Linked DNA regions of Homo sapiens: region 1 is linked to region 2. The links come from fine-mapping of genetic effects on gene expression. A gene starts in region 2. The other region holds a variant in brackets. All regions are shown on one strand. Distances are from middle to middle.

The links. PIP is the estimated chance that this variant, and not a neighbour inherited with it, causes the effect.
Region 1: its variant is fine-mapped to the expression of MAST4-AS1 in whole blood (INTERVAL, PIP 0.95).

Annotation. Positions count from the first base shown.
Region 1 is chr5:67,027,995-67,033,379 of GRCh38, reverse strand. The region is part of intron 4 of MAST4 (microtubule associated serine/threonine kinase family member 4); the gene reads right to left. Among named protein-coding and RNA genes, the nearest start is that of MAST4-AS1, 27 kb to the right of the region's middle. The variant T/C (reference allele first, on the strand shown) is at 2,304.
Region 2 is chr5:67,001,556-67,006,940 of GRCh38, reverse strand. MAST4-AS1 (MAST4 antisense RNA 1) reads left to right here and starts at 2,787. Exons shown (of 2, transcript NR_111908.1): 1 at 2,787-3,097; 2 at 4,892-5,323. All of the region lies in intron 4 of MAST4 (microtubule associated serine/threonine kinase family member 4), which reads right to left. RefSeq lists a silencer at 2,570-2,909.

The sequences.
Region 1 (5,385 bases), 26 kb before region 2:
AGAAGTATCTGTAACAATCTGAAAAAAAAAAAGCCACACACACACACACACACACACACACACAGAGAAATGAAAACCCAAAAAAGTAATCCTTACAACTCTCAGCTGAGAGAAAAATTTCACTGTTATTTTAATGTTAATAGCTGCCACTTTTTAAAAAGTGTTATCAAGTCAGCAAGAGTGTTTTTCTTTCTTTTTTTTTTTTAAGGGTTAGATGTTCACAGTAAGAACTAATTAACTGCCAAGAATGAGATGGGTTTCCAAAGGAATGCCATTCTCCTCATCAAATACTAGTTTCTATTTATTTTAAGTATGACCATTCATTCTTAATCTGAAAGTCTTCGTAAGCATGGTTAGAACAGGGCAAAAAGTATTTATATATGATTCTACAACATAAAGTAATTATCTTAGTGTTGGATTGAAATTCACCTGTATACATATAAATATGGTACATCACTTTTCATAGTTTGTTGTCTGTACAATATTGAACATGAAATAAATGGCAATAGGTCTGAGCTACTAGATGTTATTTGTAGTTACTATAAGTGTGTTTGTGTATTTCTGCTTAAAATATAGATACACATCATTTTCTTTTTCAAGGGTTTTGAATTCTGTTGTTCTCAATAATCCTCTCATCATTTACCTAAAAGTCTATGGTAAATAATCATTGTACATACTGACACATGTGACCATATGAAATAGGTAAACCACTGATCCAGACAGACCAGACTATGCTGCTGAAAAATCATCAAGTCAGGTAAGAAGTAACCCTTATTTTGTTCTTGATGTAAAATAATTCTGCCCTCCCCCAAAATAAAAATGGCGTTTAAAACCGGTCTTATTTATTCTAACATGATACCTTATAGCTCTCCTACTAGGCACTGCAGACAAGCATGTATCTTGTTCTTTCTGTGACCCTAATGCAATACCTGGCACAGAGGCATGCTTAATTAAACCTTGCTGAATAAATGAATATTTTGAAAGAATAAGCCAATAAAAATGAGAAAAGATAAATTTTGCAAAAAACGTGGGTGGGGAAGTTTAGTCATAATAAAACCCAACCTTTCTTAAATCTCCCCCTTCTCAAATTAGTGGAAGTTTCCATTTTACAGTTTCTCCTAAAGATCCTGGAATCTTCATTAGAAAGCAGAGATTGTGGGTCAGGCTGTGCTGAGAGGTAACAAAGTCAGATTTTTTCATTGGCCTCCAGAGGCTTAATCTAAAATGGATTACAGGTACAGCAGGATAATTCACAGAAAGATTTAGGCAACTGCAAACATTCTGAAAGAATCTATAGATTAAATGAGTTAAAGCAGCCATGGAGCAAGAGTTTTTGGAAGGGGGGCAGATTGCTTTTGACAAATAAGCACCCCTTCAACGCAAGTGACAGAAGTAGGTCACGATGAGTAACTGAATTTTCCACTGATTCATTTCCACATATATCAGAGGCAGTAAAGGACACCAGTGATCTAGTTCTCCACCTGTAAGAGCTGTACAAATTAGTTCTCTCACGAAAGAAGGTGGAATAAAAACTGACCCAGCAGGGAGAACTGCCATCCTGACCTATGAATAGGTCACTAGGCAGTAAGGTCAACAGGCCTGACAGGAATATTCACTTCAGAGAAGTCCCCCATCTTTAGAAACTCTAACAATTTAGATTGTAGGGATATGGGAACAAGATGATTCCTGCTCTTTCTCCAGCTAACAGATCAGCACAATCAGGTTTAATGGTGTTATGCCAATTAACATGTATTTTACAAATCTTCACTAAGTCTGTACGCAGTTTTTCAGTGTTTAACTTTGAATGCAAATAACCTCTACTTTAAGTGTGATAGGGAAAAATTTTGCAAATCATGTCTAAATACAAATTCATTTATTTTAGTGCAAATGGAGCATACCACTGTAAATGTCAAATAGTCACCATCCATTATGATAACAGGGCCCAGCCAATCTTTCCAACTTATTCAAAGTTCACTGCATGAATGATCCAAGCCCTCAGTCCCTAGACAGAACTTAAAATATGTCCTTATTAAAAAATTCAAGGGCAATAAATCAGGCTAAAAAGGCGACAAGAGACGACCCTCCTCTGCCATCAACTCTGGGAAATGCCCAGGGCTTTCTGCTGGACTAGCCAGGGAGCTGACAGATTCTCTGTATCTATGCAGAGGAAAGCAGCAAAGAGTAGCAATTTAAAGACTGATAATCTCCACCCACCAGGAACTGATATTAATCTATTTAATAAACGCATACATTTTAGTCTAGTCAGAGATCATCCACAGATGAAAGTAAATGCTTTTTTCACA[T/C]AGGAAAAAAATATCCTATGTGGAAGTGTTATCCCCAATAGACATCAATTTTACTTTTTACAGGACAGTTAATGAGTTAGGCAGCATTATCCACACTTTAAACAAAAGTAGTCAAATTCTAGCAACTTCTGAAATACCAGCCAAAGCTACAGGAAAAAAATTTCACCATAACAGTTAATTGGCATAGAATCAACACCCATGACCTTGGCCTCTTTAGCACAATGTTCTATTGCACTAAAATACTAAATAAAAACATAGCGTTTGAGATACCCAAGGCTTTATAAAAGTAGACGTTGTAAGAGAGTGACACAAACACCCAAGATAAAAAAAGTGCTGAGGTACAGAACACTTAGAAGAGGTTAGGTGTTCCAAATATACAATGTTTGTATGGTTTTAATGTTTTAAACTAAACTCCCTTGAAACTACACAACAGAATGGAAGGGCTTAAAACCACAACCTCATTACTAATACAAAACAGATCTTATTTTAAATATCACCCCTTAGGACTCTGACCAATTTGCCCCAGGCCTGCTCTGGAATGGTGATGTACAGAAATGAAAAGGTATTTATTTTCTGAGTTAAAATGTCACTCAGATGATCTATTTTTGCCACCAGTGCTATGGTTACCTCTTCAAAACCAAAATGATGATTATGTCATTTTACCACAGCTATCTAATAAACATCAGATGGTCATCTCAGAGCTCTCATTCAGTGCTAACCTGGTTCAAGCCAAAGTTTAAAAAGAAAACAACCCTAAACCATCAAATATTGCTTGTAACACTATAAAACAAAAGAGATACGGAATACAGGTATCACACCATGCTATTACTAAATTAACTATAGAGCCTTTATGTTGTATTGCCCTGAGAAATGATTTGTTAAATAAAAACCTATAAGGATGTGAATGACCCATATGTATACAAAATATTTAGATAATAAAAATACACATTTAATTTGAAATTTGGTTTTACAATTTCCTAGATGCTCCTAAATATATATAACACTTAACAAGGAATCATGTGAAATACTAGTAAATTTCAACCTTAAACATACATTTTTATTTAATTGAAAAAATTTCATTAAACAAAATTTAAGTATATAATTTAGAGAAATTCAAATGTATAAAAATAATATATAAGTCTTAGTTTCAGAATAATTAGGATTAACTTTGTGCAAACTCGTAAACAGGACAAACTTCAAGTCCACAGCAATTTCAATAATGTTGTTAATATCAAATTATAAAGTCAACAGCAATGAATTTATATTTTCCTTTCTCCTACCTTTTTCACATGAGGAAATGTACTTTCCTTCTAAAACTCCTACTATTCCATCCACCTCACTTTCATTCTTCATGGACACAGAAATCATGCTGCCAATAAAGGTTTTCTAAGTAGCAAACACTTTTTGTTCTTATCAAAAAATAAACAAACAAAACCCAACAATCAAAACACACCATCACCTTGCCATAGAATTTTGCAACCCCAATTTCCTGCTCAATTTCTTTCAAACCTCTCCAGCCTAATTTCCTTTTTCTTAGAGATGAAATACACAGAATGGTAAGGTCCCTCAATATACTTAACTAAAAGAAACATGCTAGCAGTTTGATGACATTTCAGTAGGTATCTGATCCTCCTACAAGCAAAGATGTTTACATCCCGAATATTACTCCAAAGTAAAACAAAACATATATGCCTATGGGAAACATAAGTATAAGGATGGCTCTATGGCTTGTCTTTCCTAGAAAACACTTTTAAAATCATGTACAAATTGTCTCCCCATCCCCACCTCCATTTCTCTTGGGAATGCAGAGGGCCAGAAACCTTAGACTCTGACCTGGGTCTAAGCAGACCATAAATACTTGAAGCTGCTGGAAAATAAATATTCAACACTAATTACCTTTGGCACTCTTCATTAATCTTTATGTATATGACTTTTTTTTTTTTGAGAGAGTGTCTCGTGCTGTCGCCCAGGCTGGGTGTAGTTACGTGATCATGGCTGCCTGTAGTCTCAACCTCCCAGGCTCAAGTGATCTTCTCACTTCAGCATCTCAGGTAGCTGGCACTACAGGCACATGACACCATGCCTAGCGAATTTATTTATCTTTTATTTTTGTAGAGATGGGGTTTTGCCATGTTGCCCAGGCTGGTCTTGAACTCCTTGGCTTAAGCGATTCACCCACTTGGGCCTCCTAATGTGCTGGGATTACAGGCATAAGTCACCATGCCCGGCGGTGGATGACTCTTAATCCCCAATCTGGAACTCTCTTGCCTTCCATCCAGATCCACATATCCAGCATCTCCACTTGGGTGTGTCTATAGAAGCTCCAGTCCAATGAATCCCAAACTGAAGATATCATCTTCATCCAACGTGTCTTGCTTCTGTGTTCCCAATTTCAGTAATTGGTACCATTGTCTAACAGGCTAAAGCAGAACTATGAGCACAACCTCCACTTTAGTTCTTCTTCACTCTAATCACTCAGTTAGTCATCCAGTCTTTCAGAATCCACTTCCTGAGCGTCTCCCTTCATTCTCACGGTCACCAGCCTGCTTGTGGCATCATCACCATCTGCCCCAGAAGCCCGTGATGCTTGCTCTAACTCAGATCCTGGAATCCTTTTTGCACAACTCCAGTTCAATCCCTCATTGCTAGGAATCTTTCCTACAGGCAAATGTGATCTTATTGTCCTGTACAAAACCCTTCAGTGGCACCTCCTACCCTCAGAGTACATTTCCTGTTTGCCACTCTAATGGAATTGCTCCTCAACTCTCACTCGAGTCTCTGTACGATAGCTATTTGTTTTGTATTGTTGTTGTTGTTGTTTTGCCTAGATTACAGTCTTCCACATTTCAATGATCTCTCACCCATCAAGGTTGTTTACTTCTTTCACAGCCCACTTTTTTGTTGTGTGTCTCCTGGATGCCCTCAAAGTTCACTATAATCCCCACCATGCATGGCTAAGAAGGAGTAAGACAGACATATACTCACACATGATACTGTAAATTCTGTTACTTCTTTGTGTTTTCCTGTCTCTACACCCAACTCCACAGCATTTCCCATAAAGCTGCAAGCGTTCAAGAAGGTA
Region 2 (5,385 bases):
AAGGGGGAGAAGAAAATCCCCTTCCCTCTCTATTTTGCCAAATTGAAGATACGGTTTCATGACTTGGGGTGGAAACAGCCCACCCAATGCTCTCCCATTTTACTGGGAAGAATTCAGGTTTCCTTAGAATCTAGGCTCTCTGTCAGTGTGAGCTGTCTGAATTGGAGTGTTCAGGCTGGACAGGTACTGCCCTAAAGCCAGGCTCAGAGCAGCCTGAGAATCCTCCTGCATCTGACTCTCTCCAATAATACTATCAACAGGTAGGTAGGAAGAAGAAAGGCTCCAACTGCTCTACGGGTTCAGACACACACATACGATGCCAGAACAGACTTCTCTCCCTAAGAACTGGTTCCAGGTAAGAGTAGAGGCTGTACCGCAGCCAGGACTACACAACTCAGAAATATTTAAGGGATTCTGTCCAGCTGAAATGGTAAGAAATCATACGAATTATCACCATGTTGAGCAGTGGCCTAGTTCATGTGTAGCATGTATCTCTCTTCAACTTTATTAGTTGTCTTGGAGGTTTGGTGCATGGTTGACACAACTTGATGAGCAATACTACAAAATGAGCAATACTACAAGAGAGGGTCTCTGACCATATATGGCAGAACGAGAAAAACATAGTCACATTACTTAAAAGGTACAACTTCAGAATCCAACATAGTTTAGTGGTATCAACACTTCAAACTGCATCAAAAAGCAAATATGACTTTGAAACCTGCCAGATGTCTCTCTCATACACACAGGTGCACATGTGATTTGTGTGTGCACCCATGTATATAAACAGTGTATGTGAGTATTCCAGGATGTTTCTGAAATGTAAGAAACCATGAAAAACTTCAAAAGGAAAAACTAAGTTTTCTAAAGTATCACATATCCACATTTATACTACAAAAAGTTACAGGTATAACCAAAAAGAACGAACCATTTTCTTGGGTTCTTTGAACACTGAAGCATAGAGATTGTGAAGCTCCAAATCTGAGAGCCTGCATCCTGTTTATCTGACTGCAAAGTTGCTCTCATGCATGTTCACATGTACATGCAAGGCAAGTTTTGAAGGAAAACAAAGAATCAGTATTAACACAACTCAAAAGGTGTGCCCCTCTAAAAGTACAACAATCTTACTTTTCTGTGCTGGACACAAATGTGGTGAGAAATGCCTCCTTCAAAGTCATAGTCTCTCAACACAAGTGTCAGCAAACTCTTGGAACTGCCTGTCACTTGTGGCATGAGCTTCATCTTGACATTAAAATTCTTTTTCTTTCCCCATCTTTTCTATCAAATATACGTTACAAAATGAAAAGGACACTCCTGTATTAGTAATAAATGCCAGCAAACCATTGAAAAATCAAAATGACAAAGTTATGTAGATCTGCCTCTCCACAGATAGTATGAAATAGCTAACCTGGGCTATCCTTGCATCGTACATCTGCATCTTATAAAGGTCAAATATTTAATAGAGAGGAACATCTGAAGGGCTCAACGAAAAGTACCAGAAGCCTCAATGACTGGGTGAATGAAATGGATAAACATGATCAGGTCAAAGGGACAGACTTAGACAAAGTATCTCCTCCTCTTTCCCTTTTTCTCCCCCACCTCTCACAAGGAAATGTCTTATTATCCACATTTCAAAAGGAGAAAACCTATGAGAAGCACATTTATCAGGGTTACCCAGGAAACCACAAGGACGAAGAAATACCTGAAACAGTACCCCCTCCCCTAGCGGGGCATAAACTTTTCAAAGTGTCACCCAATACACAAAACCCCAGCTCCTGAGGGGCTCAGGCAGCTCCGCCTGTGGGCCCCTGGGAAGTGAAAGCATTCCCTCTCCAGGCAGAGATCCCCGCGTTTTTACCTTTGTGTTCGCCGAAGCCTGTTCCCACTCCTCAAATGAGGCAAAGTAAAGTTTGAGAGCACAGTCCAAAAATTGGGGTCAGACATATCCATTTCTTTCTCTCTTCAATTCACTGTGGGTTCAAGGCCATATGACTAAAATGGGGAGAGGTAAAAAAAAGGAAGAAAGACAAGGCCAAAAATAAAAAAAAAATCCCAATTATCTACTCACTCCCTCCAGAGAAAATGTGATGGGAACTGTGATCTCAAGAACAACTTGGAGCATGTCTGAGAAGTACCCGTCCCGTCCTAGCCTTTAATTAACACACAGCCTCCTCTCAAAGGTCCGGGAAACTGATTTCCTCTCGGGTCTGCCCTCTCCTAGTCAGGCTCGGCCAGCTATAAACAGTAATTACATGAGTTGAGCCGTGCGTTCTGCTCAAAGCGCTGTCTGTGGGATTCAGTCGGAGGTACTTTGTCATCTGTTTGGCAGATACCACTCGCCGCTTCTGCGAGGGGCGGGGGAGACGACTATTTTGAGGCTTTGGTTCCGGAGGCTGTTGCTTATCAGCAAAACCATTCACATCCGAACATGCCCAGTGCCGAGTTTCCTTTTGGTATCTACATACAAGGAAAAGAATTTGAATAGAAAAAGCTGCTCTTGCCCTCCCCTCCTGAAAAAAGCGGAAACTTAAAAGCACTTTTAAAAAATGGGCCTATTGGAGGACTTGAACCTGACACCTTTGTGGACCCTTCCAGGGTCCGGCTGGGAGGAGGCGGCAGGGCCTTGTCCCTGGACAGCTTGGTGGCCGCGCCCCCAGCTTTCCTGCATCCCCCACCCCCCACCAGCCCCGGCCGCGCCTGAGGAGCGGGGGCTCACGGGAAAGGGAGCAGGCGGCCGCGGCGCGACCCCAGCCGGTGCCGGGACAGCCCCGCAGCCTGGGCCGCCGCTCCCCCTCCCCGGAGCCCGGAATGGATCCGTCCCGGAAATAAATAAATAAACCCGCGGCTGCTCCGGGTGTGTGCTGCGCGCACCTGAGGCCGACCTGTGATTCACCGCGGGAGGGATGGCAGTGACAACGCTCCGGGGAAGTCCACAGTGACTCCTCCGCCAGGACGCCGCTGGTTGTATAGGAAAAGCACGCGGACGGGAAGCCACACTCACCGAAAACCTCAGTAAACTAAATTTATGAGTTTACATCTGTTCCATCAATGACCACGGTGCACACCTGTTTGGCTTCATGGCCGGCAACTACAGATCTAGGTAATGGTGAGCCCCGATGTGGAAAGACACTACCTGGCATTTATGTGGCAAATGCTACAAGTATTGCCCCTTCAAGTACGTTAGACCTTGAAAGGGCAGAATGAAGGGGGCTGAATGTTCTTGTTATTCATTTTGAAGAAAGGCATGGTATTTAAATATCTCCCCCTATCCATGAATGTTTGTATAAAGTACATAAAGAAAAAATATAATTTAAATTAGCTGCCTTAAGTCTGGTGTAATATGGCAAGAAATACTAAATCAAAAAAGTATATATTCAGCAAAAAATACATCTAAAAATGGCTTAGTCCATGCAGTAAATACCAGGAACAAACTCGCTTACAAAAATGGGAGGATAAAGAGAAGGAAGAGGGGGTGTAAGCTGACAAGGTAGGCGGGGTAAACAAAAAGAAGCCTGCTGTGGGATCTTCTTTATCTAATTCTTGTGGCCCACATTAATATTTTCACACCAAGGACTCCAAGAGTTTTGGATGATGTTTCATGTCCAAGGCTTTCGTATGCGTTATCTCCTCACATTCTTACAGAGCCTCCACAGATCCTTGCAACCCACAGAGGTAGACAAAGAAGGCATTATTTTCTCAATTTTACATTTGGGACTTTATCCCAAACATTCAGGGACACTAAATGACAAAACACACTTCAATAGATATTAATGAGCTTGGTCCAGCATTTTTGCCCCATGCTCTTCTTTTAAAAAATGTTTCTAAGTATTGCAAAAGATGTTTTGAAGGCTGACACAAAAGAGTGTCCCTGTGCTCCGGAGCAGTTTCTAGACCTCAGCACTGTTGACATAGGCTGGATAATTCTTTGTCTGAGGAGCTTTCTTGAGCATTGGAGGATGTTTAGCAACATTGCTGACCTCGACCTACTAGATGCCAGTGCTGACAATTAAAAATGTCTGAGGACATTGCCAAATGTCCCTTGGGAGGTAAAATCACCCCTGGTTGGGAACCACTGCTCCAGATAAAGGCTTCTCTGAGAGGGGTGATACAGAGCACTGGTTTAGAGCAAAAATTTTGGGTCTGAATTCTGGATACAACACTTACTATGACCTTAAATCTCTTCTCATTTTCCCCAGCTGCAATATGGGGTCCATAATAGGACCAACCTGTAAGAGGCTGATATACATAAATGAAGAGGAGATGGCATACATAAGCCCTTTCACGCAATGTCTACACACACACTGCGCATAAATGTAGGCAGTATACAGAAGCTAAGAGAATACTATGCTGACAGACATAAGACTGGAGCAGAGGACACCCCACAATGTGCTTCTTTCTACTCTCTAGAGTCTTCAACCAGGCTGCTGATCACACTGTGTATAATTGACTGTTTACTGCTGTCTTTCCAATTAGTCTGAGTTCCTCAAGGCTAAAGTCACATTTTACTGATCTTCATATTTTCAGAACCTGACAGCTCCTCAGTTTATATAGGCATTTAATATTAGTAAATCCTTTTTGAATGGATACTTCAGAAGCCCAAGTATCTCTTATTTCTCTTAAGATGCACTGAAACTATTAGTACTAGTAGATCTGTATTCTCAAAGAATACTGAATTTTTGAGAATCCCATGAAGACGGTAAATTCTGAAGACTTTCTCTTAGTGACTTATTTGTATCTATATCATGTAGCTGGAAAGATATCAGTGCTAACATTCCTCAGGTCTTTACATGGCTCTAAGAAATGTCACAATCAAACTCAAGGGGAATTCCCTTTGAGTCCCATGTCCCCTCCTCAAAGGCAAGCCCAGAGAATAACTTTTTGTGCTCACTTGTAGGTATCCAAGATCAAGAGGGACAATTACATATTATAAGCCGCACAGAGAAGAGTAATCAAGGTGGACATGAACTTGTGCTATATAAGTTATGGGTTGAAGAACTCTGTGGAAAGTAGAGAAGAAAAAATTTAGGGAACAAGCAGTAGTTGAATACAGCTATGTGAAACTATGAGAACTATGTGAAAGAGTGTTTGGATCCAAAGATGAAAGAGCTGACACAAGAGTGGATTTTCTGAGAGCTGTTTGAGCAGAGAAAACTTGAAGGAGATACAGTGAGTAGAACACAACCTGTAGGTGGTTTGAAGACCTGAGGACTCCAATACCTCCCAACTCTCATATTCTCTATAGTTTTTCTAGAAAAGCCCATGTATTGGGGCATAACCTATAAAGATGATAGCAACTAAAATGGATAAATCAATGACATAAAATGTTTATTTCTTCTCTTGATTAAATGACAGATACCCCAATCTGCAGGCATCATATGTTATGACTGC